Linked DNA regions of Homo sapiens: all the other regions are linked to region 7. The links come from fine-mapping of genetic effects on gene expression. A gene starts in region 7. Each other region holds a variant in brackets. All regions are shown on one strand. Distances are from middle to middle. Region 1 overlaps LOC105375114 (a long non-coding RNA gene). Region 2 holds the start of LOC105375114 (a long non-coding RNA gene). Region 3 overlaps LOC105375113 (a long non-coding RNA gene). Region 4 has its middle 48 kb from the start of LINC03015. Region 5 has its middle 16 kb from the start of FAM157D. Region 6 has its middle 41 kb from the start of LINC03015. Region 7 holds the start of FAM20C (FAM20C golgi associated secretory pathway kinase).

Evidence for each region. PIP is the estimated chance that this variant, and not a neighbour inherited with it, causes the effect.
Region 1: its variant is fine-mapped to the expression of FAM20C in whole blood (TOPMed, PIP above 0.99).
Region 2: its variant is fine-mapped to the expression of FAM20C in whole blood (TOPMed, PIP 0.99).
Region 3: its variant is fine-mapped to the expression of FAM20C in whole blood (INTERVAL, PIP above 0.99).
Region 4: its variant is fine-mapped to the expression of FAM20C in fibroblasts (GTEx, PIP above 0.99).
Region 5: its variant is fine-mapped to the expression of FAM20C in whole blood (TOPMed, PIP above 0.99).
Region 6: its variant is fine-mapped to the expression of FAM20C in whole blood (TOPMed, PIP above 0.99).

The regions. Positions count from the first base shown.
Region 1 is chr7:112,238-116,593 of GRCh38, reverse strand. LOC105375114 (a long non-coding RNA gene) reads left to right here. Exons shown (of 3, transcript XR_926959.3): 3 at 697-3,938. Among named protein-coding and RNA genes, the nearest start is that of LINC03015, 35 kb to the left of the region's middle. The variant CA/A (reference allele first, on the strand shown) is at 2,303.
Region 2 is chr7:117,928-122,283 of GRCh38, reverse strand. LOC105375114 (a long non-coding RNA gene) reads left to right here and starts at 2,853. Exons shown (of 3, transcript XR_926959.3): 1 at 2,853-3,487; 2 at 4,223-4,356. RefSeq lists a silencer at 2,231-2,449. The variant C/A (reference allele first, on the strand shown) is at 2,110.
Region 3 is chr7:78,611-82,966 of GRCh38, reverse strand. The region is part of intron 1 of LOC105375113 (a long non-coding RNA gene); the gene reads left to right. It overlaps LOC101929756 (a long non-coding RNA gene), which reads right to left. Exons shown (of 3, transcript NR_187733.1): 2 at 1,673-2,837; 3 at 1-52. Among named protein-coding and RNA genes, the nearest start is that of FAM157D, 45 kb to the right of the region's middle. RefSeq lists enhancers at 1-664, 665-1,437. The variant A/G (reference allele first, on the strand shown) is at 2,467.
Region 4 is chr7:99,743-104,098 of GRCh38, reverse strand. No RefSeq gene overlaps it. Among named protein-coding and RNA genes, the nearest start is that of LINC03015, 48 kb to the left of the region's middle. The variant G/A (reference allele first, on the strand shown) is at 2,126.
Region 5 is chr7:49,381-53,736 of GRCh38, reverse strand. No RefSeq gene overlaps it. Among named protein-coding and RNA genes, the nearest start is that of FAM157D, 16 kb to the right of the region's middle. The variant C/T (reference allele first, on the strand shown) is at 1,941.
Region 6 is chr7:106,295-110,650 of GRCh38, reverse strand. No RefSeq gene overlaps it. Among named protein-coding and RNA genes, the nearest start is that of LINC03015, 41 kb to the left of the region's middle. RefSeq lists an enhancer at 1,261-1,977. The variant A/G (reference allele first, on the strand shown) is at 2,563.
Region 7 is chr7:190,062-194,417 of GRCh38, reverse strand. FAM20C (FAM20C golgi associated secretory pathway kinase) reads right to left here and starts at 1,847. Exons shown (of 10, transcript NM_020223.4): 1 at 614-1,847. The coding sequence starts at 1,218. LOC124901808 (a long non-coding RNA gene) reads left to right here and starts at 4,300. Exons shown (of 2, transcript XR_007060632.1): 1 at 4,300-4,356.

The DNA of each region.
Region 1 (4,356 bases), 78 kb after region 7:
GTCTCACAGTGGGCAGCAGCCCAGCGTCTTTGAGACGGCGTGGAGATGGGCCTAGATCCTAGATGCTGAGAGGAGGCGTCCACACGGCTGAGGGAGGCCAGGCAGAGGCCATAGTGTGGGTGAAGGCCAGAGAATGGGCGAGCTCAGGGAACTGGGGGCCTCGGGGCAGAGCCCGGAGCAGAATGATGGGTGTGGGTGCAGGTGGGGCACAGGCTGGAGGTGTTGGGAAGAAGCCTGCGAGCCTGGTGCTGAGTGCCTGGCTAGCACCGAGTTCACCCGAGGAGCTCCTGAGTGTGGAGGGGAGATGGGGCTGGACCGGGACACTGGTGAGTCCATTCCTGGATGGGCAGAACTCAGCCACAGAGACCAGCCAGCAGGTTATGGGAAAGAGCCCCTGTGGAGGGCAAGGAGGGCGAGGGAGGGAAAAGGGTCTGCTTCGCTTTTTCCCGAGGACGTTGAAGGAAGGGAGAGGGCTTATGGAGAAGAGCAGGCCTCCATGTCCAGAGCAGGAATCCGAAAGTGGAATGTGTTTGCCAGATATTCTCTCTCCTCTGTCTCTCCCACTTCTCTCTGCCTGTATCTCTGTCTCCTCTTTGTCTCTCCCTCTCCCTCTCTGTCTCCTCTTTGTCTCTCCCTCTCCCTCTCTGTCTCCTCTTTGTCTCTCCCTCTCCCTCTCTGTCTCTGTTCTCGCTGCAGGAGCCCGTCCATATCCCTCATCCAGCAAACTCCATGGCCATGCAGGGCTCCTCAGGACACTGCAGTTGTGCCCTGTTTAAAACAATAACTGTTTCTCAAGTTTCTTGGAGTGAAGCCACCATGACCTTTGCAACAGACGAAGCCTACACTTTTTCCAAGTGTGACTCAAAGGACAAAAGGTTCATGCACAAGGCAGTTCTAAAAGTGGATGGGTAATTGCTGGTTCTGCTTCCTGTAAGGATTTTGTAAGATCACACCAAACCCACTCCCTTACAGAAAACAGCTTCAAAATCTGTACACAATGCAAACAGGCTGCTTGTGGGCGTTGGAGAGTGAACAGCAAGACGGACCTGGGGTGTACACGGGGGATAAAGGAGTTGCAGGAAGCACGTTCTCTTTGACCGTGGCTGTTAGCCTGAGCACTATGTAGTTAGGGCATGAGGAGCTGGGGGTCCTCAGGGAAGACCACAGTCTTCATGGCCTGGAACAGGAGCAGGACGAAATTGGGGAAGCTGTGGCCAGTGGAGGGGGGGAGCGTCCAGAAGGGGAAACTTGGCGGACTCTACTCATGTTTCCGACTGGCCCTGAACTGCACACACTCAAAGCAGATAAAAGAAGCCCAGCTAAAGGCTGGTACAAAATGACCTTCTTTATAATGCTGGTTGTGTTCATTGTTCAATATTAATATAGCTGTTCCCGCTTTTTTTTTTTTTGACTAGTGTTAGTACAGTGTATCTTTTAAAATCCCATTAGTTTTCATGTATTTGTGAATTTATATTTAAAGTGGGTTTTGGGTAGGCAGCAATTAGTTGGGTCTTGCTTTGTTATTAAGTCTGACAAACTGCCACTGAATTAGACCAATGGTTATAGATCATTTTCATCTACCATCACTGTTGATAATGGTTGGACTTAAACCACCATCTTGCTATTTGCATTTTATTTATCCTGTCTACTTTTTGTTTCCTGTTCCTCTTAGCCAGCCTTCTTCTGGACTGGGTATTTTTTAATCATCCCATTTAATCACTTCTGTTGGCTTATTCCCCATAACTCTGTCTGTACATATGTATGTGTGCGTGTGTGTGTATACATTTTAGGGTTTATAGTGTGCACCTTCAACTTATCATAATCTATCTTCAAATAATATTACACTACATCATGATGGTTTAATAACCTTACAGCAGCACACTTCCATTCCCTGCCCTCCTTCATGTCCTTGTGGGCACATATTTTATTTCTCTACATGTTCTATACCCAGCAAAACATGCTTTTCCTTCCTGTGCTTCTATCGGGTCTCCTATAATGTCATTTTCCTCTTGTCCAAAGGACTTTCTTTAATATCTCTTAGTGCTTATCTGCTGGTATGATTAATATTTTAGCTTTTATATGTCTGAAAAACTTGATATCTCACCCTGTTTCTACCTTTGTTGCCAGGTACAGAATCACAAATCAACAGGCTTTTCCCGGCAGTACTTTGCAGAGCTTGTTCCACTGTCCTCTAGCTCGCCTCATTTTCAAGGAGAAACCTGTCGTCATCCTTGTCTTTGTTCCTCTGTACCCAGCACGTCTCTTTTCTTCTGCCTGCTGTTAAGATTGTCTCGTTCTTACC[CA/A]GTTTAAGCAGTTTGGTTAAGATGTGCCTTCTTCGTACTTCATACTTTTTGGACTGGGATATGTAGCTTTTAAAAAGCAAATTTCAAAAGATTTCAGTCATTATGTCCTCCTTTTTTTTCTGTTTTTTTTTCTTTGTTTTCTTTCTGGGACTCTAAATGTATGAATTTTAGGCCAATTGAAGTTGCCCCCCAATTAGCTTTCTGCTCCTTTTGAAGGGGTCTATTTTCTGTCTGTGTTTCACTTTGGATGGTTTCTATTATATACCTTTAAGTTCATTAATCTTTCCTTTTGTAGTGTCTGTCTAATCTCATCATCTCATCCAGTGAATTTTCTTTATCTCAGAAATGGTTTCATCTCTAAAAGTTAGAATTGGGACTTTTTAATGTTTTTCATATCTCTGCTTAACGTTATCATGTGGAATAGAGTGATAATAACTACAGTTCATCTGTGTCTAGGAATGCCCTCATCTGTGCCATTTGTGAATTAGTTTCAATTTGTTGATATTCCTCATTACATGATGTGTTTTCCTGCCTCTTTGCATACTTGGTGATTTTTTACTGTATGCTAGACATCATGTACTTTTCCTTGTTAGATCCTGGATAGTTTTGCACTCCTAAAATTATTTTAAAACTTTTCAGGGATGAAGTTACTTTACTTGGAAACAATTTGATATATTTGAGGCTTGATTTTAAGCTTTTTTGGGTGGGGCCTAAATTAGTCTAGGACTGATTATGCTCTACTACTGAGGTGATACCATGCTGAAAAAGCTTAATAAGGAGAAAGATCAATCAATAAATATTCACGTATATTCACAAAATATAATGAGGAGAAAAATCAATCAGTAAATATTCACGTAACCCTAAAAAAAGTTAAGAAATGAGAAACAAAGGGGGGAACTGGAGGGTATGTATAGAGAGCGAGGCATAAAATTACAGACCCAGACATAACCATGTCAATACTTATTTAAATATGAGTGGACCAAAGATTTCAGGTAAAACGCAGAGGTTGTCAGAATAGATATGAAAACAAGACCCACACACATGCTGTCTTCCAAAATTGCACTTGAAGAACAGAGACACAGGTAGCTTTAAATGACATTAAAGTTAAAGCATAAACACTGGAAAGGGAGAAGAAGAACTGCCTCTTTATGCAGATATCATGAATCATGTATGAGGAAGTATCTTAAGAAACTTACAAACAACTAGCATAGGCACTGAGAAAGCGTGGTCTACTCATCAACCACAAACAGGAATGAAGCCCTAACATGCCACAATATGGATGAACCTTGAAACTGAAAACATGATGAGTGAAAGAAGACGGACACAAAGGGCCGCATGTTATATGATTCCAGTTATACGAAATGGGCAGATCTAAAGAGGCAGAACGCAGGTTAGTGGTGACAGGAGCTGGGGGAAGGGAGGAACAGAGAGTGACACCTCGATTGATGTGGTGTCTCCTTTCTTGGTGATGCGAATGTCCTGGGGCCGACAACGTGGTGAACGCACTGGATGCCACTGAATTGTGCACTTCAAAATTGTGAAAATAGTGAATTTTATAATATGTGAATTTTACCACCATAAAAACCAAACTATTAGTACAAATAAAATTAGTTTAGCCAAGTTGCAGCATTTAACTTTCATAGAAAAATCGATTGTATGTCTTTGCTCATCAATATACTACCGTGCCACTTATGGTCCTTTTGAAGAAATGAGACAGCTGATGCTAAGATTTACATGGAAAGACAAAAGGGTTAAAATATCCAGAAACAACTTTGAAAAATAAGAACAAGGTTGTGGGGCCCACGCTACTTGATTTCAAAAATTACTATACAGGTATGGTAATCACGACAGTGTGGTTTTGGCATCAGGAAAGACACAGAGGCCAACTGAGCCGAAGGGGAAGTCAGAAAGACCCACATTTATATAGTCCCTTGATTGCTGGTAAAGGTAAAAATTTAATTCTTTCAGAACTAGCTGTTTCAATAAATGGTGCCAGGATAAGTTGATATCTACATGGAAAAACAAAATAACCTTCAAGCCTTACCTCCCACCA
Region 2 (4,356 bases), 72 kb after region 7:
TTGTGGTGGTTCTGAAATTTGGACTCTGTTGTCCCACTTGACCCAAGAATTGTTCAAGAGGCATTTTGTTTGCTTACTTGTTATTCAGGATGTTAGGGTTTCTGCTTCTACAATTGCTATTATTTTCTTCCTTTTGTGGATTTTGGCTGGAGAATATGGTCTAAGTGTTCTTGGGATTTGACATAAGTTCAAGTTAAAGAAGAGGTTTCACGGCTTCTTGAAGAGAGAGGCATTTCCCACTCCAGGTGTGATGTACCTGTCAGGATCCACTGCTGGGTCTCCCGATGCGTGTTTGGGACCCTGGGTTCACAGAGGGCCGCTGAGGTCCCCACTGCTGCGGGCTGCCTGGTCATCTTCAAATGATGCTGGAATCTCCACTCACGTACTTACCTCCATTCCTAAAATAGTATCGTGTTTTTCCTCTTTATTGTTTGTGCTATTGGGGAGGAGCCTATTATCAGAGGAAATGGATGCACATCGGACACCCTGGTCTGGCTTTATCAGGTTCGCATGCCCTTTCTTATCACCGCCTTTCCCTGCCCTTCCCCTGCCCCTCTCCACCCCTTTCCCTCCCTCCTTCTCCTTTTCTCCTCCCTTTTACTCCGTCCTCTCTCCTTCCCTGCTCCTTCTCCTTCCTTCCTGCATTTCCTCCCCCCTCCTTCCCTCCTGCCTCTCCTTCCCTCCTCCCTGTCTTTTCCGCCCTCTTCCCTCCCTCCGTTTCTCTCCTTCCCTCCTCCCTCCTCCCTTCCTCTCCACCTCCCACTCCCTCCCTACTCCTCCCTCCCTCTTTCCCATCTTCCCTCCTCTGCTCCCCCAGCCCTTAGCTTCAGAGATCTGAGGTCCTGTTCCTTAGCACCTGGGAAAGCTGGCCCCACAGACCCTCAGGTTCTCTCCACTCACCGACTGGTCCCCTTTCCTGCCAGTGCCTCTCTTGGTTCCCACCCTTCTCCATGGGCAGCCAATTTGCTGTGTTTGACATCTTTTAGTTTGTATGTTTTCTTGAAGAATCGGCCTGACTGTTACGGGTACGGGAGTCACCGTGCTCAAGAGGACCCTCTGTGTGGCCGCGTGCTCGTCCAGGGCGGGGCCTGCCCCACTGCGGAGCCCAGCCTTGAAGCTGCCATCTTTCCACGCTCACACCGAGGGCATTCAGGTTGCCTCCCAGTAATGCTTGGTCCAAGGAGTCCCAGACCGAACAGGAAACTTTAATGCTGATTATACCACATTCATCTTTTTAAAACTTGGTTCTCACTTGCCTCTGATTTGTGCTGTTGACATGTTGTTTAAAAAGCCTTGCCTCGCTCCTTGGCCATGGTTATATTCCCTTATATGAGGTTAAATTTGTAGCTTCACCTGTAGGTGACGGCCATGCCTGGTGTGGCTGGCTGTTGAGGTGCAGGGCGCCGCCGTCCAGCAGAGGCCAGTCCAGGAGCAGAGTCCAGAGGCAGCCTGCAGCCCCTGTCCAGAGGCCCTGAGGGGTCCGGGCCAGGGAGGTGGCCTGGCTGCAAGCCCAGCAGAGCAGGCACGTGGGCAGGACCTGGCCGCAGTCTCACGGGGCGGGCCCCTCCTTCTTCCCCGACGCTCCCCGCTCCCTCCCCACACAGGTGTGCGGGGCTGAGCCCCCGGTGAGTGTAGTGTTTCCAGCCTATGTGCCGGAGTCACCTAGGAACAAGCTCCTGAACTTGCAGCAGAATGTAGCTGCGGACGTTTTGAACACACCGGGGAACAAGCTCATGGATTCACAGCGGAATGTCGCTGCGGACGTTTTGAACACACTGTGGAACAAGCTCCTGAATTCACAGCGGAATATAGCTGCGGACATTTTGAACACACCGTGCAATGTTCTCTTTCTTCATTCATCCTTTTGCCAATTTCCTTAACAAATATTGAATTTCCACCATGACTCAGGCACTCCAGAGTGAACCAGGCCAGACCCTGTGCCCAGGTGCCTGTGCCAGAAATAATTGGGCTCTCCTGGGCCTCTAGGTCAGTTTAAAGTTAAGGGTCCGTGCATCATTGCTGTTAGAAAATTCCTGGAAAAAGTATTTGCATGTCTTTGGGGAAGAGAACCAGAGGAAAGGAATGGGTTTTCTCCCTGGACAGTGAGTG[C/A]CCTTCCCTGCGAGTGACCAGGACCAATGTGATGTGGCTGGGGCAGTGGGGCTGGAAGAGGAGTGGCAGCTGTGTTTGTCACAGGCCTGGCTGAGGAATTCTCTGTGGCTCTGAGCCCTCGCTCCTGCTCCTCAGGGGCTCCTGGCCCCTCTCCTGCTCAAAGCTTGCTCCCCCAGAGGGTCCAGGCAGCGAGACCTGGGTGTGGGCCGGCCTTCCCTGCCCTGCCAATGATGGCTGGGTGGTGGCAGAACCCCCTAAGGCCCAAGGAGTTCTGCTCAGTGCAAGACTCATCATCTGGCCACACTGCAGGTCCGCAGGGGACAAGGCTCCAGGCACAGGAAGACCCAGCTCCCATGGCCTGGCCCCCGAAGGCTCGACCCCGGGGACAGACTCTGGGAAACTCTCTCAGCTGGAGGCTTTCCGTGCAGCTGGAGTTTAAACAGCCCAAGGCTCCGGGCTGTCATCTCCGCCCAGGATTAGCTGCTGCTGGAGACTTCCTCTCGTGGGCCCCGTGCTGGGGCTGTACAGCTTCCTACCTCACGCCATCTCTGTGGTCACAGGACGCTGAGTGGAGAAAATAAAACCCACGCAGGGACGGCAACCATCGTGGGGATACGTGGGGCTGCGCTCAGGTCTGCAGAGGCCGAGGCTGGACAGGGTGGGCCCTGCTTCCTCGTCAGCAGCGGGAGCCCCGTGACCCCCAGCACGCGGTTCAGAGTGGAGAAACTGCCGGGTGACCACGCTGAGCTTCCCCTTCCTTCCCCTTGTCCAGGCTCAGCAGGGGCTCTGGGCTGATCCTACTCTTCCCACTGGAGGGAGCCGTGGGTGCTGGGGGCTCTGGGGGCCTCCTGGCCTCTGGGTGGTCGTGGGCTGCTGGCTTAGGGTGAGGGCACCAGGATCCGGGCTCAGGGACGTCTGTGCCCGCCGTTCCCACTTCCCTTCGACCTCCCCCACCTGATTTCTTCTCTGCCCTCCCCTCCCTGCCGCTAAGGAGTCTTTGGCCTCTGCTGATCTTCTTTAAACTCCCTGCTGCAGCGGTTCACGGAAACTTCCCAATTACCACATGATGACACTGGCAATGGCTTCTCACGTTCTCTGTGGCCAGACTGTGCTCAACACTCCAACCATTATCTCGTTTACCTCAGAAACGTCCCTAAGCTGCGGGCAGGGGCAGTGTCGTGGTGACCGTTCCTCCCTTTTCCAGGCGACTAACCTGGGGTTCCAGAGGTCGGCCCTTCTTTGTCCTGGTGGACGGCCTAAGGCCGAGGTGTCCGACCCGGGACCGAGTGTCCCTGTCACAGGAGACTGGCTGACACCTGCATGCAGTTTATTCCAGCCAAGACAGCCACGCCAAAGGACCACGCCGACGGGAGGAGAGGTGGGTTGAGGTGTGCCAGTCAGGTGAGACTCAGGTGGCAACTCCACAAAATGCTGGAGTTAACAGCGTGACTCACAGATCCAGAGAGAAGAGGGCAGCCCCCTCGCAGGGCTGGTGGTGGGAACGGGGCGCTGTCTTGGACGCACACAGCCAGAGGGACAGGGGCTGTGGTCAAAGCCTTCACTGGGGTCCAGGGTATTGCCCAAGCAGGTTCCCACAGGAAGCTCTGGTGGGTGCACTCAGCCAGTGGGCCACAGCCCCACGAGGTCACACTGGAACTGGGAGGGGTCTGCTGTGGGACAGCTACACAGTCCTTGCAGGGTGTGGGGTCTGGGCGAGTCCTGTGGGCTGTCCCATAGCGGGGTGGTCACCAGGAGACGTCTGAGTAAGGCAGGTGTCTGGAGGGACCACCCTGAGATACTGGGGGAAGGCAGAGAACTGGAAACTGTGTCAAGGGTGACTGAGCCCCGATTCTGGGAGGACAAAGCCCCAAATGGGTGCTGAGGGAACACGACATCGTAAGAATTCCGCACAGACGCTTCAGTGCTGCTGATGAGAGAGGGCGTCAGGCTGTGAGCGTGTCAGAGTCTGGGGGGTGTAAAATTATTGCACGTAAATAATCAGGAAACAGCTGCCTAGAATAACCTTTATATTGGAAAGTGTGCTTTGAGGTCATTATGCCAGATTTTATGGCCATTTCTTGGCTGAGCCCTGGGATGGCTTATGTCTTTGCAGAAAGGCATCATCACATTTTATGAATGACAGATGGCTTTTACCACACCTTTGCATGATCGCTTATGGTAATAGGACTGCGGTGCCCTGAGACGTGGGGATCTGCGTGAGTGCCCCCGGCAAAGTCTGCTCTTCCG
Region 3 (4,356 bases), 110 kb after region 7:
AGTCACCGCCGCGCCCATCAGAAGAAACAGCAGGAACCAGACATTGCTCTGCCTGCAGAAATCACATCTGAAAATCAACTCTGCTTTGCTCCAAGCGACGGAGCTTTTTCATAAGTATAAAAAACAGCTAACTGGATAAAAACACCTTTCCTGGGGACCTGAGTGCTGCAATTCAAAGGGGCTGGCAGTGTGAGGCTGGAGAAGGGCTCCTGCAAGGCTCTTAGCTGGGCAGGCCGAGGGAGGCCCCTCTCGGTGAGCACGAAATCAGGGATGCCCCGGGCCGGTTAGGGATGGGGCCTGGACACCGTGAGATTTCCAGCAGGCTACACCTGGGGCTGCAGCCGGGGCAGCCCCCACAGAATACTCAGAGGCAGCGGGAAGTGCGGGCTGGTGACGAGAGTGGGAACACTGCCCCACACGCAGCCGCCTCGGTGCCACCTGGCGGACAAGCCGCCCCTGTCCCCCGCTTGGCCTCTCCACATGGCACATTTGCCCCTGGCAGTGCCCAGCCCCAGGTCCGGGTGACTGGGGACAAAGAATACCGATGGAAAAACAAGCTAACGAGCTCCTCCTAGGGAAGAGGCCCGCGCCAGGGAGGAGGCGGCCGTCTGGGCGGAGCTTCCCGATAGCCAGGCCCGGGCGGTGCCAGGACACTCACCTCAGGTCTCACCTGCAGAGCATCCACGAGTCACTCACGCTGGGCCAGGCACAGGCTGTGCACACAGAGGGCAGATCCAGACCACACGAGAGCATAGGTGCCCACGGGTGTGCAGGGATTGTGGGGGGAAAGGAGTGTGTGCTTGTGTGCCTGTAGGCGTGGGTGAGTGTAGGTGTGCCTGTGGGAGGGCGAGACCATGAGTGTGAGGGTGCGCGTGTGCCTGTGGGAGGGTGTGTGGGTGTGGGTGTGCGTGGGAGGGTGTGATTCTCTGTGGCTATGCCTGATTGTGTGTACATGTGGGTGCACATGCTGCACGTCTGTGCTGCAGGAACCCATAGGGCCAACCTTAGGTCCTAATTCTGGGCTGACCGTGTGCCGTCCCCCACGGGCCCCTGCATCCTCAGTTCCTCATCTGTGCTGTGGGCAGAAGCTGGGCTGCCCCACACTCCAACATCCCTAGAAGGGAAGGGATGGGGGCAGGGCTGGCTGCAGGGACAGCCTCGCCCACAGCAGACACGGAGGCCGCAGGGTCATGCCCTGGATGGATGTCACCCAGGAAAGGTTTTGCCTCCTCCAGTCTTTTAAATCAGGCTCCAGGGGCTACGATTACAGCCCTGGGCTTTCTCCCACCCCTCAGCCTCCCTCCTTAGTAGCTCCACAGCAGCTCCCTCCCGAGAGCACACCACCCCTGCACGCTCGGAGCTGCATCCTCCAGCCCCTCATTCCCCGCTCATCTACTCCGACCCAGCTAGGGATCCGGCTTCCCTCTTAGGGCCATTTCTCCTTTGCCAGCATTTTCTCTTTTTCCCTTCTGTCATGCTCTGCTACGTCCTCATGCAAAATTAAGCCCAAAACGGTTTCAGTTACTCCCAACCCTGAGACGAGTTTTAAAATAGTGACAGGATGAACATTGCACCTCCCATGTGAGGGCTGTAAGGGACTGGCAGTTCCAAATGCATCTTCCACTCGCAAAGTTGCTAACACAAATCCCATGGGGAAAAGGGAACTGCTGACCTTTCAGCGTGCAGATCTTCCCTTTGATGGGTTTGCTTGCCTTCAGAAGAGCCCAGGAAAGCTCTGCACAGAGGCCTGTGTGTTTCCGCCCCTCCTGTAGGAAATGAACGGGTGCGTCTTCTCCGTTGCCTTTATTGATCAAGGCCAAAATCACAAGTATAAATTACCACGGTGGGAAACGAGCTGCTCTGATGAGAGGCAGGTGGAGGAGGCTGCCTCGTCAATAATGCATCTGATCAGAAAGAAGGGGCTGATCAGAGGGAGGCCGGGCTCTTTGAAGGTTCTGGTTTTCCCATGGAAAGCTCCACCAGCTCTCTGCCTGCCGAGTTCCTGCTCTTGCCCAGACGGGAAGTGCGAGTAGCTTTCATATCAGACCTGCCGCTCACCGCACCGAACTGATTCCATGGACACTGACATTTGTCTCTGCAGCAGGGATGGCCGCCCTGGCCCAGGCTCCTGTCGCTGTGGATGCCTCTGTCTGGCACAGACTTTCGGTGTTAGAGCCCCAGGTGAAGGTCTGAAGCAAGAAGGAAAAGGACACAGAATCCCATCCCTTCTGAACCTGCGGGGTGCAGCTGCCCTGAGATCCTGTAGCATTTCACTGGGAGCCGACAGGGATGGTTTGCGCGCTGCCGGGATGCGTGAACAGGGGAGTCCATGAGGCCCCAGGGCTGACTCAGGGCACGTGCAGTTTGGGGAGCAGCCAGGGAGGCCTCCCGGGCAGCCGGTTGGAGGACAGAGCTGAGGACATGCAGGCTGTCTTCTATGATCAAGGGTGGGTGAGGCACAGAGGA[A/G]CTCTGGTGACTGGATGCAGCCGTGAGGGGCCGTGGCCCAGAGAAGCACAGCGGTGTCTCACCTGGCTTCTCCGCAGGCCTCAGACTCATGTCCTCAGGTGCAGGTGCCGGGCCCTCCTCCAACAGTGAGCTCCAGCTGCCTCCCCGCTCAGGGGCCACTCTGCTCTGATACGGGCTCTGATACCGGCCTGCAGCTCCCCTGCTCTTGGTTTCTGCCTGGTGTCACCTTCTTCCACGACACCCAGTCCCAGGATGACTGACGCCCAGGGAGATCTGTCGCCTCTCCTCAGAGACCACGTGTGTTCACCCTCAGCAGCAACACGCTGCTCCTTCCTCAAGGCGTCCTGAGGCATTGTGCATTTTCACCATTTCTGGGATGTAAAGAAGGAGGAATATTTGTCAGATAGAGAGAATACCGGTTCAGATGGTTGGTGGCTCAGATAGAGGTGGGGTTTGTTCCAGCCAGCAGCCCGTCCTGAGAACCAGGCTGGAAGAAACACCCTTCCCTGTGGCACCACAACACCTACACCGAGGTGTCTGTGCTGCCTGGAAAGCACAGCGGGTCTCCCCAGTGCTGGGGTCATCCGGAGAGCCAAGCACCTTCCAGAGGGGCCTCGAAGTGGGGGCGCAGGCCCCCCAGGGTGCTCAGGCCAGACCGCCTCCTCTCAGGTGGTTCAGCAAGAGCTTCCTTCTGCCTCAGATCCTTCCAGGGTGTGGACTCTCTTTTCTTATGATTCTTTTCTGACTTCACCTTACGTCACTCCTCTCCAAACCTAGATGGTAAGCCCGGTGAGGGCAGGGACCCAGCCTCCCTCATTTGCAAAGCAACCACAGTCCCTGCCTTTGAGCTGGGCTGCGGGTGCCAAGCTGGAGAGCATTTCGCCCTCTCCCACTGCTGCTGAAACAGAAACCACAAATTTAGTGGTTTAAAATAGCACAGATTTCTTCTCTTGCAGAGCTGGAGCTCAGAAGTCCGAAATGAGTTTCACTGAGCCAAAGCCAGGGAGTCAGCAGGGCTGGTCCCTCTGGAGGCTGCAGAACACCTGCTCTGCACCTCCTCCGACCTCTGCAGCTACTCGGCACCCAGGACAGCTGTGCGGCCTCTGCTGTGTCTGAGCTGCTGTTGTTCCATGGCCCTCTCTGTGAGCTTGCTGTCTCCCTCTCATAAGGGCCCTCTCATAAGTCATCTGGATGACCCAGAACAACCTCCCAATCTCTAGACACTTATCCCGACTCCATCCATAGAGCCCCTCTTGCATGTAAGGTAACGTGCCCACGGGTTCGTGGGATTAGGATGTGCACACCTTTGGGGGCCTGATGTAGCTGACCATGCCCACATCTGGTGGGAACCCACCTTCAGGGTTTCTTCTCCTTGGACACAGGCTACAGCCCAAGCCAAATGTCCCAGAGCCTGGAGCAGGGCCCCCCTCCCCCACTTTCCCCAAAGAGGCTGGCGCGGGAACAAAGCCCCTGTGTGGTCAGGAGCTGGGAGGGCAAGACAACAGGACAACAGGACAAGAGGACAACAGAACAACAGGGCAACAGGGCAACAGGACAACAGGGCAACAGCCATCCCAGCTGGAGAAGATTCTCAGGGCTGAGGTGGAGGAGGTCGGGCCTCAGCCGGGCTCAGAGTGGAACTGCTGGTCCTCCTGTCACAGGAGGGAGGGGCGGTGGGACGAGAAGAGAGGGCCTTGAGATCAAGCCGTGCCCTGCTGAAGCCTGGCAGAGGGGCTGTGCCTCTGGGCAGCTGGTGTGAGCTGTCGTCTCGTGCAGCTGGTCTAGGATGGGGCAGAGGCTCTGCCTTGACCTCTCCCACCCCTGGTGCCGTTTGCCCCTCCACTCCAGGTGAGCACAGCTGGAGCAGCAGCTACCTCGAGGACTGGTGGC
Region 4 (4,356 bases), 90 kb after region 7:
GGTTGCTGGGTGGAGTGCTCTGCGGTTGCTGGGTGGAGTGCTCTGCGGATGCGGTTGCTGGGTGGAGTGCTCTGCGGATGCGGTTGCTGGGTGGAGTGCTCTGCGGATGCGGTTGCTGGGTGGAGTGCTCTGCGGATGCGGTTGCTGGGTGGAGTGCTCTGCGGATGCGGTTGCTGGGTGGAGTGCTCTGCGGATGCGGTTGCTGGGTGGAGTGCTCTGCGGATGCGGTTGCTGGGTGGAGTGCTCTGCGGATGCGGTTGCTGGGTGGAGTGCTCTGCGGATGCGGTTGCTGGGTGGAGTGCTCTGCGGATGCGGTTGCTGGGTGGAGTGCTCTGCGGATGCGGTTGCTGGGTGGAGTGCTCTGCGGATGCGGTTGCTGGGTGGAGTGCTCTGCGGATGCGGTTGCTGGGTGGAGTGCTCTGCGGATGCGGTTGCTGGGTGGAGTGCTCTGCGGATGCGGTTGCTGGGTGGAGTGCTCTGCGGATGCGGTTGCTGGGTGGAGTGCTCTGCGGATGCGGTTGCTGGGTGGAGTGCTCTGCGGATGCGGTTGCTGGGTGGAGTGCTCTGCGGATGCGGTTGCTGGGTGGAGTGCTCTGCGGATGCGGTTGCTGGGTGGAGTGCTCTGCGGATGCGGTTGCTGGGTGGAGTGCTCTGCGGATGCGGTTGCTGGGTGGAGTGCTCTGCGGTTGCTGGGTGGAGTGCTCTGCGGTTGCTGGGTGGAGTGCTCTGCGGATGCGGTTGCTGGGTGGAGTGCTCTGCGGATGCGGTTGCTGGGTGGAGTGCTCTGCGGATGCGGTTGCTGGGTGGAGTGCTCTGCGGATGCGGTTGCTGGGTGGAGTGCTCTGCGGTTGCTGGGTGGAGTGCTCTGCGGTTGCTGGGTGGAGTGCTCTGCAGATGCGGTTGCTGGATGGACTGCTCTGTGGTTGCTGGGTGGAGTGCTCTGCGGTTGCTGGGTGGAGTGCTCTGCAGATGCGGTTGCTGGGTGGAGTGCTCTGCGGTTGCTGGGTGGAGTGCTCTGCAGATGCGGTTGCTGGGTGGACTGCTCTGTGGTTGCTGGGTGGAGTGCTCTGCGGATGCAGTTGCTGGGTGGAGTGCTCTGCGGTTGCTGGGTGGAGTGCTCTGCGGATGCGGTTGCTGGGTGGAGTGCTCTGCGGTTGCGGGGTGGCGTGCTCTGTGGTTGCTGGTGGCGTGCTCTCATGCTCTGCAGATGCCGGCCAACTGATCCAATCTGACATTTCTTTGTTGATCTTTTGCCTACTTGTTCTACTCATAACGAAAGTGTGTTATTGAAGTCCCCAGTTTGTTGCTGAACCGTAGTCTTGCCTTTTTCCTCAGACTTAGAATCTGTGTCGAAACTTCTTGATGGGAAACATGTGATTGGCTCTCAGGTCTCAGCCTCTGCTCTCCCCATTACATGCCTGGAACATCCTGAGGGAGCTCAGAGCAGACAAGGCCCCGGCTTCACGCTTCAGATATGCTTCCATTACTCCCACCTTATAAATGAGGAACTGAAGGGCAGAGGGGTCCAGAGCACTGCTGAGGACAGCTGGCTGGCTCAGAGCTGGACTCGAACCTAAGGCAGCTCAGTCTCAAATTTATGCCCAGCGCCATGTTGGTGCATGCCCTCCTGGGGTAGCCAGAGAGTGTCATGATTACACCAGAGATGAAGTAGTCGGAATATGGACCCACTCCTAAGCTGCTGTGTGGGCTGCTGTGTGGGGAGTTCCAGAAGCGCACACACCAGTGGAAAAATTAAATGTGGATTTTTATGGTATCCCATCTGGCTTCTGCCACCTCCCAGGCGTGGATCTGCTCACAGCCAAGTGACCTCCCATCTGCAGGCTTCTCCCAACGCGGCTCAGTGGTGCCTCATCTGGACCACGAGTCCTCTCCACCCCAGGTGCGCTTCCACGGATGCCCTTGGACTCTCCTGCCTGGTCTTCCCACCGCTCACCCTGGCCTCTCTCCAAAATCCCCCATGGCTGCCTTTCTCTATCATCTGGCCTCAAAACCTCAGTCATTCATTCAAAGCCCTTTGTAATCCAGACCTGACTTGGGTCACAAATCAGCAAGTGTATCCATGACACCAGTGACCCTCAGGCCCCACTCTGTGGCTTTGGTGAGT[G/A]ACAGATGACTGTTGAGTGACTAAGCAATGGTGCAATTGAAATTCCAGGGAATGAGACCCATTTGGAATTTCCTGAAGAAACAAACCCCCAGGCACAGGAAAGAGGCATCCGTGCATGTTTGGCTCCCTTTTGCCTTGAAATCCACGGAGCTCCGAGGCTCTTTCCGGCATGCTGGCTGTACACAGGGCCTTTCAAGGGCAAGGAGTCCTCAGCTTTCTGGGTCTCCTTAATGAGCCTGAGGCCTGCTGCCTGCAAGTGCGGCCCCTCTGTGCTTTTGCTGGCTGTTTGTGAAGTCAGCCCTGCCTTTAATAGGCCTGCTTGCAATTAACATGGAATATAATACTGAAGAAAATGCTGTAAAGCACTTGGCCTCTCAGGAGCATAACACTAAATGTTGATGCTCAAAGGCACTAAACAACGTGCATAATTAGGCAAATAACTCTCCCCTAGTTTCCAATGCAGAGAAAGGAGGGAAGTTAAGGAGGGTGTGTGTTCAAGCCTGTTGGATCAGTGATGCTAGGGAGAGGCCTGGAGCTGGCTTCCTAGGGCCCAGGGTCCCGTGAATGACTGGGGTGAAGCAGCCTTGCCATGTGCCTTTGGAACACCCTCAGGGAAGGGTCACAGGGAAAGGGCACACCTAGGTTCCTCAGGCAGGTGCAGCTTACAGCTTTCCAGGCTGATCTCTATCCCTGGTCAGAAGGGAATGGCAGACCCAGAGAGGAAACAGACCTGCCCAGGCCCGCGGAGATGGAAGAGACTCGATTCTCCTGCAGATGAGGCTTGAATCTGTTGGGTCCTTTGGGAAAGTAGGTCTGGAGAACTTCAGGGTGCAAACAGGACGCAACCATGCAGAGTTACAGTTTTTCTCATAACAGGGTGTTGGATTTTCTCAAGTCCTTTTTCTCTATCAATTGAGACAGTCGTGTAGTTTTTGTCCTTCATTATGACAGTGTGGCAGATTATCTTGATTGATGTTCATATTTTGAGCCATCCTTCCATTCCAGGAGTAAATCCCACTTGGTCAGGGAGTATAATCCTTTAATGTGCTACGGAATACAGTTTGCTAGTATTTTGTTGGGGATTTGGCATCAGCAGTTATCGGGAAAATCGGTCTGTAGTTTTCTTTTCCTGTAGCTTTCTTGTCTGGGCTTGGTATCAGGATAATGCTGGCCTTATACATTGAGGTTGGAAGTGTTCCTCTTGTTTAGCTTTTCAGAAGAATGTGAGGAGGATTGCTGTTAATTATTTAAATCCTTGGTAGAATTCTCCGGTAAAGCCATCTGGTCCTGGGCTTTTCTTTTTTGGGAGATTTTTGATGACTAATTCAATCTTTTACTAGTTATAGGTCTTTTCAGATAATTATTTGTTCATGATTCAATCTTGGTAGGTTGTATATTTCTAGGAATTTTTCAATTTCTTCCAGATTACCCAATTTGTTGGTATATAGCCATTGTTCATGACATTCTCTTACAATATTTTTTATTTATGTGGCATCAGTTGTAAGGGGCCTCTTTCATTTCTGATTTAATTGAGTCTTCCCTCTTTTTTTCTTAGCTAATCTAGCTAAGAGTTTCTGTTAATTTTGTTGATCTTTTCAAAAATCCAGCTCTTCAGTTTGTTGATTTTTCTATTGTTTTCTATTATTGTGTTTATCTCTGTTCTAATCATTACCATTTCCTTCTTTCTGCTAATTCATGTTTAACTTGTTCTTCTTTTTCTAGTTCCTTGAGATGTAAAGTTAGGTTGTTTATTTGAGATCCATCTTCTTTTTAAATGTAAGTTTTCACCTCTATGAATTTCCCTCTTAATACTGCTCTCATTGCATCCTATAAGTTTTGGTATGTTGCGTTTTTGTTTTCATTTGTCTTGAGATATTCTCTATTTTTCCCTGTGGTATCTTCCTTGATCCTTTGGTTTCTTAAGAGTCTGTTTTTAAATATTCACTAATTGTGAAGTTTCCCGTTTTCCTTCTGCTGTTGATTTCTAGTTTCATTCCTTTGTGATCAGAACATATATTTTCTATAATTTCAAACTCTTACATTTGTTAAGACTTGTTTCGTGGCCGATCATATGGTCTCTCTTGGAAGATATTCCACGTGCCCTTGGGAAGAATGTATTATATATTCTGCTGTTGTTGTGTAGAGTGTTCTATATACGTCCGTTAGGTCCAATTGGTCTATAGTGCTGTTCAAGTCCTTTGCTTCCTTACTGGTCTTCTATCTGTTTCTTC
Region 5 (4,356 bases), 140 kb after region 7:
TGCACTTGGGGTTTATAGAGAGCACTTAGGCCTGCAGGAGCTAAGATTGCACAACTGCACTCCAGGCTGGGGAACAGAGTGAAACTTCATTAAAAAAAAAATCCACAGCTAAGTTGATGCAAAAGCAGCATCTAAATCATAGACTAGAAAAAGCAGCCACCACATGTGACAGTGAAGCTTCAGAAACTGCCTTTGGGAGGTAGGAGCAAGGCAAAGATATGCCCTTTCTATGTACCCTTTCTATGCAACCTCGGGTAGAGTTACCGGCTTGTGCAATAATGCAAGAAAATGAACTAAATGTGGAACAATGGGTCAGGAATAAAAGGAAACCATCATTCTTTATTGACCCTATAAAAATCTACATTTTAAAAGGTCATAACAAATAAGAGAGTTCAACTGGACACAAGACTAGTAAACAAAACTATCAGCAGTACCCAATTCATAATTATAAAAAGCAATTTCATTTGACATCAACAAAAGTTATCAGTTACCTAGGAATACATCAACTAAGACAAGGGTAATAACTTTATGAAAAAATAAAGATATCAGTGAAGAATATTTTTAAAGATGTCTATAAATGGGGAGGTGTGGTGAGACCTGCATGGTAAAGCGATGAAGTCTCCCCAAGTGAGGTGATGAATTTGATGCAGTTCCCACCAAGCACACACCCATGGGGACACGTTCACCTGCATCTGTTTACGTGTTTTTTAAAACTTGACTGGCTGACTCCAAAAACAATACAGGACAATAATAACCAAGATACTTTTAAAGGAGAAAAAGTAAGTCGAGGATACATTACACCAGATATAAGCACACCATATAAATCCATTGCAATTACAGCCACATGATATCTTGGTAGAAGAGAAAAATAGACCAAAGGAAAAGAGTACAGAGCACCAAAGAAGACCCTCTTCTGTGTTGAAACTTAGTCTATTAGAAAACAAATAAAGTGCCCAATCGTTTGGGCAATTGGCTCTTCATTTTGAAAAAAGATACCTTTAGATCTATACCTCAAGACATACACAAAGGTTATTTTCAGGTGGACTGAGAAACTTTATAAATATAGCAAGACTCTTTAGATGAAAATATAAGAAAATATATTTTGAATACATTTTGTGGATTTCGCAAAATACATAGAAAAATCACATGATCAAAAGATTAATAAAATTGACTAAAATTTAATAATAAATATATCTATAATAATTTTTTAAAAAATAATAATAAAATCTAAACTTTCCCTTCCACAAATGATATGGAGACTAGGATAAGGTATTTGTAAAACATCTTGTGAACTAAAGATTTCTATTGAGAGTACTTAAAGGTTTTTAAGTGGTGCTGGCTCCCCTCTTAGGGGACTCTTAGTTCAAACAGGTTTCCTCTCATGGCTGAAGTGTTGAGTGCCTTTTCCACTCCCGTTCTCTCACAAGTGTGCAGAGGCAACTGACGTGTGATGTCACTGCAGACTGAATACAGAATTCCACATGGGAAACTTGTTTCCCAGGAGCCAGGCAGCAGGAGCATTCACACATCTAAACAATGCTACTCCTGTCACCAGTTTCTAAAGAAAATATAGTTATTTTCGTAACATGTTATGTTATGAACATAACATAATCCTTGATGTTCATTAGCATAATGGATTCATTATGAGTTTTCACTAATTGGTTACTTAATGTGATGGTTACTATTGTCAACTTGATTGGATTGAAAGATGCAGAGTATTGTTCCTGGGTGCGTCCGTGAGAGTGTTGCCAAGGGAGATTCACATTTGAGTCAGTGGACCTGGGAGAGGCAGACCCACCCTCAATCTGGGTGGGCATCATCTCATCAGTTGCCAGTGTGGCTGGGATAAAAGCAGGCAGAGAAATGCGGAAGGACGAGACTGGCTGAGTCTTCCGGCCTTCATCTTTCTCCCACGCTGGATGCCTCCTGCCCTTGAATAC[C/T]GGACTCCAAGTTCTTCAGTTTTGGACTCTTGGATTTACACCAGTGGTTTGCCAGGGGCTCTCGGGCCTTTGGCCCCAGACTGAAGGCTGCACTGTCGGCTTCCCTACTTTTGAGGTTTTGGGACTCAGACTGGCTTCCTTGTTCCTCGGCTTGCAGCCTACTGTGGGACTTCACCCTGTGATCGTGTGAGTCAATACTACTTAATAAACTCCCTTTCATATACACTTCTATCCTATTAGTCCTGTCCCTCTAGAGACTAATACTCTTAAGATTTTAAATTGTTCTCCATTTTCATCTTTAACATGGTAAATGTTAATAGATAAACCATACTTATTAGGGTTCTCAATTACTTCTTATTATTTTTTTAATTGACACAATATGGCACATATTCGTGGGGTTCACAGGGATGCTGCAGTACATAGAATGAATCAAGGATTAGATCAGGGTGGCGAACACATCCATCGTCTCAAACACGATAATTTCTCCTCCTAGCTATCTGAAACTATGAATTATAGTTAACTATAGTCACCCTACAGTGCCAAAGAACCATAGGACTTATTTTTCCCATCCAGCTGTAATTCCATATCCTTTAAAAAATCTCTCCCTATCCGTCCCCTCTCCCTCCCCTTCCCAGCCTCTAATATCCTCTGTTCTACTTTTTACTTCTATGAGAGCAACATTTTTTAAAGTTTCCACATGTCAGTGAGAACATTCAGTATTTAACTTTCTGTTCCTGGCTTATTTCACTTACCATAATGTCCTCCAGTTCCATCCGTTTTGCCATGAATGACAGGACTTCATTTTTTTTTACAGATGACTAGTATTCCACTGTGTGTATATACCACGTTTTTTATCCAGTCATCTGCTGTTGGACACCTAGGTTGATTCCACGTCTTGACTATTGTCAATAAACATGGGGTTGCAGATATTGGTTTGATATACCGATTCCTTTCCTTTGGATAAATGTCCAGGAGTGGGATTGCTGGATCTTATGGTAGTTCTGATGTGGGGCAGGTGAGCCCCAAGGTGGAGTTTAGTCTGCAAGGGTTCTTGCCTTTGCCCAGGAAAGAATTCAAGGGCAAGCCAAAGGAAGAAGAAAACAGCTTTATTTATTTAGAGACGGAATCTTGCTCTGTCACCCAGGCTGGAGTGCAGTGGAGCGATCTCGGCTCATTATAACCTCCGCCTCCTGGGTTGAAGAGATTCTCCTGCCTCAGCCTCCCAAGTAGCTGGGATTACAGGCACGCACCACGACGCCCACCTAATTTTTGTATTTTTAGTAGAGACGGGGTTTCAACATTTTGGCCAGGCTGGTTTTGAATTTCCCACCTCGTGATCCGCCCACCTCAGCCTCCCAAAGTGCTGGGATGACAGGCGTGAGCCACTGTGCCCGGCCAAAAACAGCTTTATTAATAAAGAAGAAATGTTACAGCTCTGAGACGGTTCCTGCAGAGCAGGGCTACCCTCTCTGCCCTGTAAGAAGAGAAGAGCAGCTCGGGGCAGTTTTGCAGTCATGTTTAATCCACTTTTAATTTCACGCGGATTAAAGACGGTTTATGCAGAAATTTCTAAGGAAGGCATAGTAACTTTTGGGTCATTGAGTCATTGCCATGGAAAGGAGCGGTAACTCCCGGTGTCGTCATGGCAACGATAAACTTCCATGGCACTGGTGGGTGTGTCTGATTGAAAGCTGCTTCCGCCCCAGCCCTGTTTTAGCTAGTCCTCAATCTGGTCCGGTGTTCGAGCCCCACCTCTGGAGTTGAGTCCCACCTCCTACCTCAGTTCTGTTTGTAGTTCTGTGAGGAACCTCCACACTGCTTTCCACAGTAGCTGTACTGGTTTACATTCCCACCAACAGTGTCAAGAGTTCCCTTGGTTATTTTTTGTCTTTTTGATGAACGCCATCACAACTGGGGTGAGATGATATTTCTTTTTTTTTTTTTAATTTTTTTTTTAATTATTATACTTTAAGTTTTAGGGTACATGTGCACATTGTGCAGGTTTGTTACATACGTATACATGTGCCATGCTGGTGTGCTGCACCCATTAACTCGTCATTTAGCATTAGGTATGTCTCCCAGTGCTATCCTTCCCCCCTCCCCCCACCCCACAACAGTCCCCAGGGTGTGATGTTCCCCTTCCTGTTTCTATGTGTTTTCATTGTTCAATTCCCACCTATGAGTGAGAACATGAGGTGTTTGGTTTTTTGTTCTTGCGATAGTTTACTGAGAATGATGATTTCCAATTTCATCCATGTCCCTACAAAGGACATGAACTCATCATTTTTTATGGCTGCATAGTATTCCATGGTGTATATGTGCCACATTTTCTTAATCCAGTCTATCATTGTTGGACATTTGGGTTGGTTCCAAGTCTTTGCTATTGTGAATAGTGCTGCAGTAAACATACGTGTGC
Region 6 (4,356 bases), 84 kb after region 7:
GAGAGAATACAGGTACAGCACTGAGAGCAGCACTGGGATACAGTAGGTGTTCATAAATGGCACCTGCTATCATTATTAGTGATCTAGGAATAGGACCTTAGCTTAAACCCCACTGTGAGAAAAAGGGAAAAGCAAGGAGGAGAGGCTTGTCCAAGGCAGCAATCCCATCTTCCAGACACCAGGCCAAGAGTTCTGGAGCCCGAACACAGGCGTGGCAGAGAGCCTTTGCTGCCCTTCCCCTGCCCACGGGGCGGAGGGGAGATCTCGGGCCCCACAGCTCCTGAGCAGGGCTCGGGGGTCACCCTCAGTGCTGGCAGGGAGTGCGGAGTTGCTTTGACTCACTCAGGAGTAGGTTTGAGCCCTGGTTCCTTTCCTTATCACTCAGAGGCCGATGGCGCAGTAGCTGCCTGAGGAACACACAGCCTTTGCAAGTCTTTGGGAAACAGGAGAACTGTCTTCCTTTGTCCGAGAAGCACTCAAGCTGACGGACAGTGGTGCTGCTACTTGCTGCTATTTCTCTCCAAACTTTGGGACTGCGGCCACAGCGGCGGCCACAGCTGTTATTCCTTGTGTCTGCCAAGGGTCTGAGAGTGGCCTGGCGATTCAGCTGTTCCCTGCCCACAGCCCACCCTACGGGATGGGGCCAGTGATGTCGGATCCCTGGTGGTCCTGGTTCTGGCTATCGCTGGAGGGGACACAGACTCCACCTGCGTTGAGCGTGCCGCTCCCTGTGTTCTCCATCTCCATGTTCCCACCTCTTCCTGCTCTTTTCCCCGTGCTTTCAGCTACCTAAGGGTCGCCACTTACCGTCCCTGCAGAGTGCAGAGATTTCTCTTTGAAGAAAAGGTTCTGGAGCAATCAGAGGGGTGAGTGTGGATGCAGCCAGCCCCAGCCCTATGCTGCTCCTCAGACTAATGGTGCTGAAGGCTAAGAGAACGAATAAATGGTAGTGAGCGTTTTTCTCATTAGGGTTTTAAAATCCTCCAAGTAATAGATCATTTTGTAGCATCTTACATGTCCTGCTTATCCTAATAATGTGTTATTACTGAATCTCAATAATTTTAATGGGGAAATTCTTTATCTTAAAAAATGTGAAGTGGCTATCCATTTAAAAAGTGTTAACGAGGTAACTCCAAGGGTTTCAATGAACAAGGAGGCCCATAGCTGTAGTGACCCAGTGCCTTCGTGTTTTAGACACTAGCTGAGATCTGCACACTGGAGCCATGGCCGTGGAGGGAGCAGTGACCAGGACCTGCCTCCCGCAGTTGGGGGCCTTTGGTGCTCAGCCCAGGCTTCTGTGCTGGGATGCAGGGCCAGTCTGTTCACACAGACCAGGATAGGCCCTGGACGCGTGCACAGACAAACCCCCACAGGGGTTCATTTTATCTGGGGTGTGGCAGGGAATCATGAGCTGAACAGAGATGCTGGATGCCGAAAACAGCCTCTGTCCCTGCCTCTCTGCCAGCGCTTGCTGTTTGCCTGGAAACAATCCCTCTCCTTCCTTGGCTGCAGTTTTCTCACCCATGAAGACGTGTTCAATGCAGACGTACCGAGTTTCCTCTGGGTCTTCCTGGTTGCCTGGCGTCTCCAAGTGCTCATTTCTCTTCCTTGCTCTTGCCCACCCCACGGGCCCTTCCCCCGTGAGCGAGCTTCACAGACACACACAGACACTAGTGGTTTGGGGTCCTTAGTTGAGGCCATCTTAACTGGCTTCCCTCACCTCCCGAGTGGCAGGCTAGGAGGAAGCGGTGGTTTATTACAGGGACAGATCACACTGTGCCAGGGAAGGCCAGGAAAATATATTCCCATTTTACTTCCTCTAATAATCTCCTATTTTCATCAGTGGGTGAGTGAACATGGCTTCTTCTTCCCAATGATGGTGCAAATGTATAATTTCTCCCAATGAAATCTGATTTTAATGAGAGACTAAATCAGAGGAAAGAGTATTATTTAGATAGTATATGCACATGTCAGGTTAATTTAAAATCAGCTTTTAGGTCAATCTATCTTAATTATTCTATTAACCGTTTTTGACTAGCAATTCCAATAATTGTGTTTGCGTAATACTTGGCAGTGTAATTGCTTTTTGGATTCTCTTCATTGTTTTGTCAGAGTCTGTTCCTGGGCCTCTGTCCCTGGTGAGCTGTGCTTGGGTTGAGTGTGTGCTTGGGTTGTGTATGCACATTCGTGCAACTGCACATGTGCTTGGGTTGAGTGTGTGTGTACAAGTGTGTGTGTGTGCACATGCTTGGGTTGAGTGTGCAGATGGACGTGCATGTGCATGCATACCTGGGTTGTGTGTGTGTGCACATGTATGTATCTGCTTATGTGCTCTAGTTGAGCATGCATGGGTGTCTATGTGCACATGTGCTTGGATGGAGTGCATGTGTACATGCACATATGTGCAGAAGTGCTTGCATAGTGTGTGTGCATGGGTATCATGTGCATGTGTGCTTGGGTTGAGTGTGTGTGCACATGTGTACATGGGTGCATGTGCTCAGGTTGAGTATGTGCATGTGCACACGTGTTTGGGTTGACTGCATGGGCATGGGCATGCAATGC[A/G]TATGTGTTTGCATCATGTGTGTGCACAGAAGTGCATGTGCTTGCATTGTGTGTGCATGGGTATGCATGTGTGCACGTGCTTGTGTTGAGCATGTGTGCATGTGCTCAGGTTGGGTGTGTCATGGGTGTAAGGTGCACACGTGTTTGGGTTGACTGTGGGCACAGATGCACACATGCATGCATGCTTGGGTTGAGTGTGTGTGCACAGGTGTGCATGTGCACATGTGCTTGGGTTGAGTGTGTGCCTGGGTGTCATGTGCACGTGTGCTTGAGTGTGTGCATGGGTGTCATATGCACATGTGCTGGGGGAGGTGCTTCCCTGATTATTAATGAATGTATTTTCATGGGGTTTATTGATATCAAGGACCCCTGTCTTTATTTTTTATTTTTAAAATAAACTTCATTTTAGAACATTGTTAGATATAAAGAAAAATTGTGATGATAGCACAGAGTTCCTGTATACTCCACACCCAGGTTCCCCTACTCTTACCCTGTCACATTATACTGTACCTTTGTCACAGTGAATTAGCCCATGTCGATACAGTAGTAGGAACTAAAGTCCATACTTTATTCACATTCCCTCAGTTTTCCCTTAATATCCATTTTCTACCTCAGAATCCAAAGTATGATGTTACAGTTGGCCCTCATGTCTCCTTAGGGCCCTCGCAGCTGTGACAGATTCTCAGACTTTCCTTATTTTTAGTGATCCTGACAGTTTTGAGGAGGACTGGTTGGGTATTTTGTGGAATGTCCCTCATTTGGGACTTGTCTGATCTTTTTCCTGTGATTAGTTTGGGGTCACGGGTTGTGGGGAGGATGGAAAGTGACCTTCCCACAGCATCACACCAACGTCCTTGCTGTCTGCGTGACTTGTCACCGGTGATGTCAACCTCGGCGATGTGGCTGAGGCAGAGGTTTCCAGTTTTCTCCACTGTAAAGTTGCTCTTTTTCCCTTTTCATACTGTATTATTTGGAAGGAAGACACTCTGCAACGCTTATACCTTTAATTGTTTATTGATGCATAACATTTTACATATTTATGGGGTGCATGAGATATTTGGATACGCGCATGCCATGTGTAATGATGGAATTGGGGTATTTAGGACGTTCATCACCTCGAACGTCTATCCTTTCTTCATGTTGGGAACATTTCAAATCTTTTCTTCTCGCTATTTCAAAATATACAGTATGTTGTTGTTAACTATAATCCCCTCACTGTGTTATCAACACTAGAACTCACCCCTCCTACCAAACCGTTTATTCGTACCCATTAACCACCTTCTCTTCATTCCCTCCACCCGCCCCCCACTATTTTTTAAACAGCTTTACTGGGTTATAATTCACATACCATGCAATTCACCCATTTAAAGTGTACAATGGTTTTCAGTATATTCACAGAGTTCTACAGCCATTACTACAGTCAATTTTAGAAAATTTTCACCACCTCAAAAAGAAACTCCACACCCTTTAGCTACTCTCAGCCACCAGCCCTGCCCCCACCCCCAGCCCTAAAGAACCACAAATCCTCTTTCTGTATCTATGGGTTCTGCACGTTTCTCAAAATGTAAACATATAGTGCGTGGTCTTTTGCGACTGGCTTCTTTCACTTCGCATAATGTTTTCAGGCTCATCCACCTTGTAGCCTGTGTCAGCACTTCATTTCTTTTTTCTTTTTCTTTTTTTTTATAAGTACTTCATTCTTTTTCATGGCCAAATAACATCCTGTTGTACGGATACACCACATCTTCTGTAGCCATTCGCCAGTCACGTGTATCGGGGCTGTTTCCATTGTTT
Region 7 (4,356 bases):
GGGGGTGGGGAAAGGGCTTAGCCAGGACAGTTTAAAGAGAGGTTCCTGCCGTGGCTTCTCGCCCTTTATCGAGCCATCATCTCTTTGCAGCCAGCACACCCACCGCCCTTGCTGGCTGGGCCGCCTTGTTGCACCTCACGGCTGCCAGCAAGCCCCTCTGATAATTCTGCTCCAGCCACTGGGTTTAAAAGACTCAATAGGCACATCCAGACCTTCTCCAAGGTGCCCACCCAGAGCACCCTCGCCAAGTGTCTGAAAGCCCAGCGGCAGCCTGGCTCCTTCCCTCACCAACTCATTCATTCATTGCCTGACCCCATTTCCCAAGCTGGTGACCACGGCTGGTCAGGACTCGCTTCTAAAGGGCGCGGGGTCTGGCTTCCTCACCAGCAGCCACAGGGCACAGCTCCCGGACCAGCCGGCAGCCCCTCCCAAGGAGGAGGTTATTCTGGAGACAAAGGCAGCGCCCTGAGGTAGGCGGCTGCCTCCTCCCGCACCACACTCCCTGCCCGGCCTCTTCCATGGGGGGCGGCCCTCTGGGGCCCCTGAACCTCTCTACACCATGCCTTGGGCTCACGGCTCCCTTGGGGGTGGGCACCTGCCAGCCCCCACTCACCAGTCCGGGTTCTCCGCCGCTTTGGGGCTGAGCCTGGTGTCGCTGTTCACATTGAACAGGACGTCCTCCTCCGTGAGCGGCGGAACCGCCACCCGGTAAAGCGGGTGCTCGAACAGCCTGGCCAGGAGGGAGGCGTCTCCGCCGGGGCCGGGGGGCGACTCGGACCGACGCGGGCCGGGGTCTCGCAGCAGCGGCCGGTGCGCGGGGTCGTGGGGTCTTAGGGCGCCGGGATCCCGCCCCCGCAAGGCGCGCTCGGCCGGCTCGGCCGCGGGCGGCAGTTTCTCCAGCGAGTGGGACGAGAGGTTGGAGGAGGGGTCGGAGCTGAAGTCCTGCAGGATGCGGAGCGTGTGCTTGTTGGGCCAGCCCGCGTCGCCGGCGGCGGAGGAGGCGGCCGGGGGCTCCCCGGGGCGGCCCCGAACCTGGGCCCAGCCGGGCGCGGCCACCTCGGCGGCGGGCTGCGCGCACGAACAGCCGGGCTCCCCCGAGGGCCGCGCGCCGCGTCGCTCCAGCCTGGGCAGCAGGTCCAGGGCGATGTGCAGCGCGCAGGCCACCAGGAACACCATCAGGATGAGCACGCGGAACCGGCGCACCAGCATCATCTTCATGGCCGCGCGGGCCGGCCCGGGCCTGGAGCGCGTTCTGCCCGCGCGCCCCTCTAGCTGCAGCTGGGCACGAGCGCGGCGCCGCCTCGCGGGTCAAGGTCCATCGGTGCCGGGCGGCTACCAGCTCCGGGGCTGTCCCCGGGCCCGGGCCGCGTGCAGGGCGCCCGCCGCCGGAGCGCTGGGTCCCCGCGCCATCTCGGGCCCGTCCCCGCTCGGCCTCTCCGGAGCGGCCGCGCCCTCAGCCGGGGAGCCCAGGGGTCCTGGTCCGCGGAGCCGGGCGCGCGGGGGGCGGCTGGGGCCGCAGCAGGGGGAGGCTCGGCGCTCGCAGCCGCCGGCGCGGGGCTCATCGGGCGTGTGGGTCCATCCCGGCCGGGGCGCGACGGGCCTGGGCGGTGGCGGCGGCCGCAGGCGTCCCGATCCTCAGCGCGCTCCTCTCCAGGCGCCGGGCGGGCGGGCGGGGAAGGGGCGGCTCCTCCGGGCCGGGCTCTGCTCTCACGCCGCGCCCGGGAGACCGGGGCTGGGGGGAAGGGGGGGGCGAAGGGCGGAAGGGGTGGGCGCGGGGAGCGGCCGGCGGGGTCCCGGGCAGGTGCAGCGGCCGCCCCGAGCGCAGCTCCCGCCTGGCCGAGCCTCTCGGCGCCCCGCGTCCCGGGCGGGCAGATATCGAGCGCCGCGGAGCCGCCCCCCGCGTCAGCGCCCACAGATTGGCGGAGCCGCCGCCCCACGAGTCACGGCTGGGCCCGGGCCGGCTGCGCTCCCGCTCTCCTTCCTCCTCCCCTCGGCCGCGCCCCGCGACGCCTCTGAGCTCCGGGCCCGCTAAGGAGAGGGCTCCTCCTGCCCGCGGTTTGCAGAGGGAAGCGGCGGAGACCGGGAGGGCGCGCTCGGTTCTGGCCAGGCCAGCAGCTGCGGCCGAGTGGGGGGCTCCGGCCTGGCCGCTTCCTGGGACCCCCTCCCGCCCGGGGCCGCCGCCGCCAGCTGCAGCCTCTCGGCTCCTCCCCAGAGGAGCGCGGGGCCGGGGCCCAGGCCAAGTCCCTCCCCGGAGCCGCGGGGCGTCTGCGCCGCCGGATGAGCTCCCCGCCGGGCGGCGACCCCGTGCCCCACGCCCGTCTCGGCAAGGAGGAGGCGGAGGCGGCCCCGCGAGAGAGGCCCAAGGAGCGACTGGGCCTGGACCCAGGGGACGCCAGGGCAGCGGAGCTCCCGGCACCGGTCCCGTCCCCCCCCCCCCGCCCACCCGCGGGACGCGCCCGCCTTAACCCTCCAGGCGCCGGGCCCGCTGGGGGCGCTGAGAGGGGCTGGTGTGCCGGGGGCGCCTTCCTGCTTGGGGCCGACGGGGGTGTGTGAGTGCAGGCGTGTGCGTGTGTGTGCGCATGTGTGTGTGTGGATGTGCGTGTGCGTGTGTATGCCTGTGTGTGTTTGTGTGTGCGTCTGTGTGCATGTGTGTGTGCACATGCATGTGTGTTCACGTGAGTGCATCTCATCTGTCACCCACAACCAGGGGAGCGGTGCTTGTACAACCAGCTGGTGGCTTCTGCAACCAGCAGCTTCTGGCCGTGCAGCTCCCTGTAGGGAATATGAGTTAATCTGGATGTCAGCCTAAGATGTAGTCAGGGAGGTAAGTGTGTGGGAGGAGGCCACATCCCCTGTGCCTCAAGCCGGCTGCTTCCACAGTGCCCAGACTGCCTGGGCCAGCAGCCTCGCCAGCAAGCCCAGGCGGGTGGGCCGGGAGCAGGGCCTGGGCCCCCCCTCTTACTTTCACCGGCTGGCTGTGTTACCAGGGCCCTCTCCGCCCTCTCTGAGCCTCAGTTTCCTCTGATGTGAATTAAGGGCGTTGAGCCCATTGTTCCTGAGGAATCACTCATCTCTGAGCCTGGCCCATTGCCTGGCATTCCGTGGGCACCCACTAGATACTTATAAGGGGAGAAGTTGTTCCAGTCCGGCTGGCCAGTGGAATCCATGCGTCTTGGGCCATTTGAAGTGAGTGAAGGGCTGGGTGCGGCCCACCTGGAGCTGGACTGGAGGCTGTGTTGGGTGGGGCGGTGTGACCTGGAGGTGGGCTGCCCCCTCAGGAGACAGCTTCACCCCTGTGAGTGGACCTCATCCTTCCTTCCTTCCACTCACATGGACAGCACATCTGTGTGTAGACAGGGTCACTGAGAGAGGCCAAGGAGGGTGAGGAGGAAGATCCCGGGTGTGGGGGGAGTCCTGGGGGAGCAGACAGCAGGGACAGAAGCCTGTGGCAGGAAGGAAGGTCTTGGCCTGTGTTCTCCCAGCAAGGGTCCCCTTGGACTTGGAGTTCTATAGGCTCCTGGCCCCCCCATCTCTCCCGTGGTCTACAGGACCTCGACGCAGAGCTGTGGCTAGTGTCTTGGGGCAGACATGGGGCTGAGCAGACCCCATGGAACACTATTATCCGGTGTGGGGGGCCTCATGGAGGTTCCCTGGGCACTTACTTTCACTTGCCTCCTGCCCCCAACTCCTCTCCCCTCCCATCCTCACCCCCAGAGTGGTTTTTGGGAGCCCGGCAGCTATCTGGACCCGTGTGCACCCCTGGACGCCTCCCTCCCTCGCAGAGGGTCCTGGTTCATCTCGTCTGTTGCCTCTTAGAACAGTGGCCTCTACCTCGCCAGGTCCTTCAGAAGCGCCCCCCTCCCTGCCCCGCCACTGTTTTCCCAACAGCACCCGCCGTGGTCTGAGGACACTTTCTTCTGCTCCTGTTTATTGTTTATCTCCCCCAAGCACAAGCAGTCGAGTTAAGACAGGAGCCTCGTTCAAAGTTCCGCCCGGGGCCAGGCACAGCGCAGGCTCTCAGAGGAGGGCCCAGGAGTCCACAGGCTGCGGCGGCGCGAGACAAAAGTCGGAAGACAGGACCCCGCTGAGGAGTGAGGAGACAGCGGCCAACCCTCCGCCAGACCCTTCCGCCTGGTGCCTTTACTGGGCTCTGAGGAGGAATTTGGTGGTTCAGTCGGCCCATCCGTGGACACCATAAAAACAAAGAGAAAACAGACACACACAGATGCACACATAGATACACACAGATACACACAGACACGGATATATAGACACACACAGATACACACACGTGGACACAGACACACACATAGACACAGATATATAGACACACACAGATACACACACGTGGACACA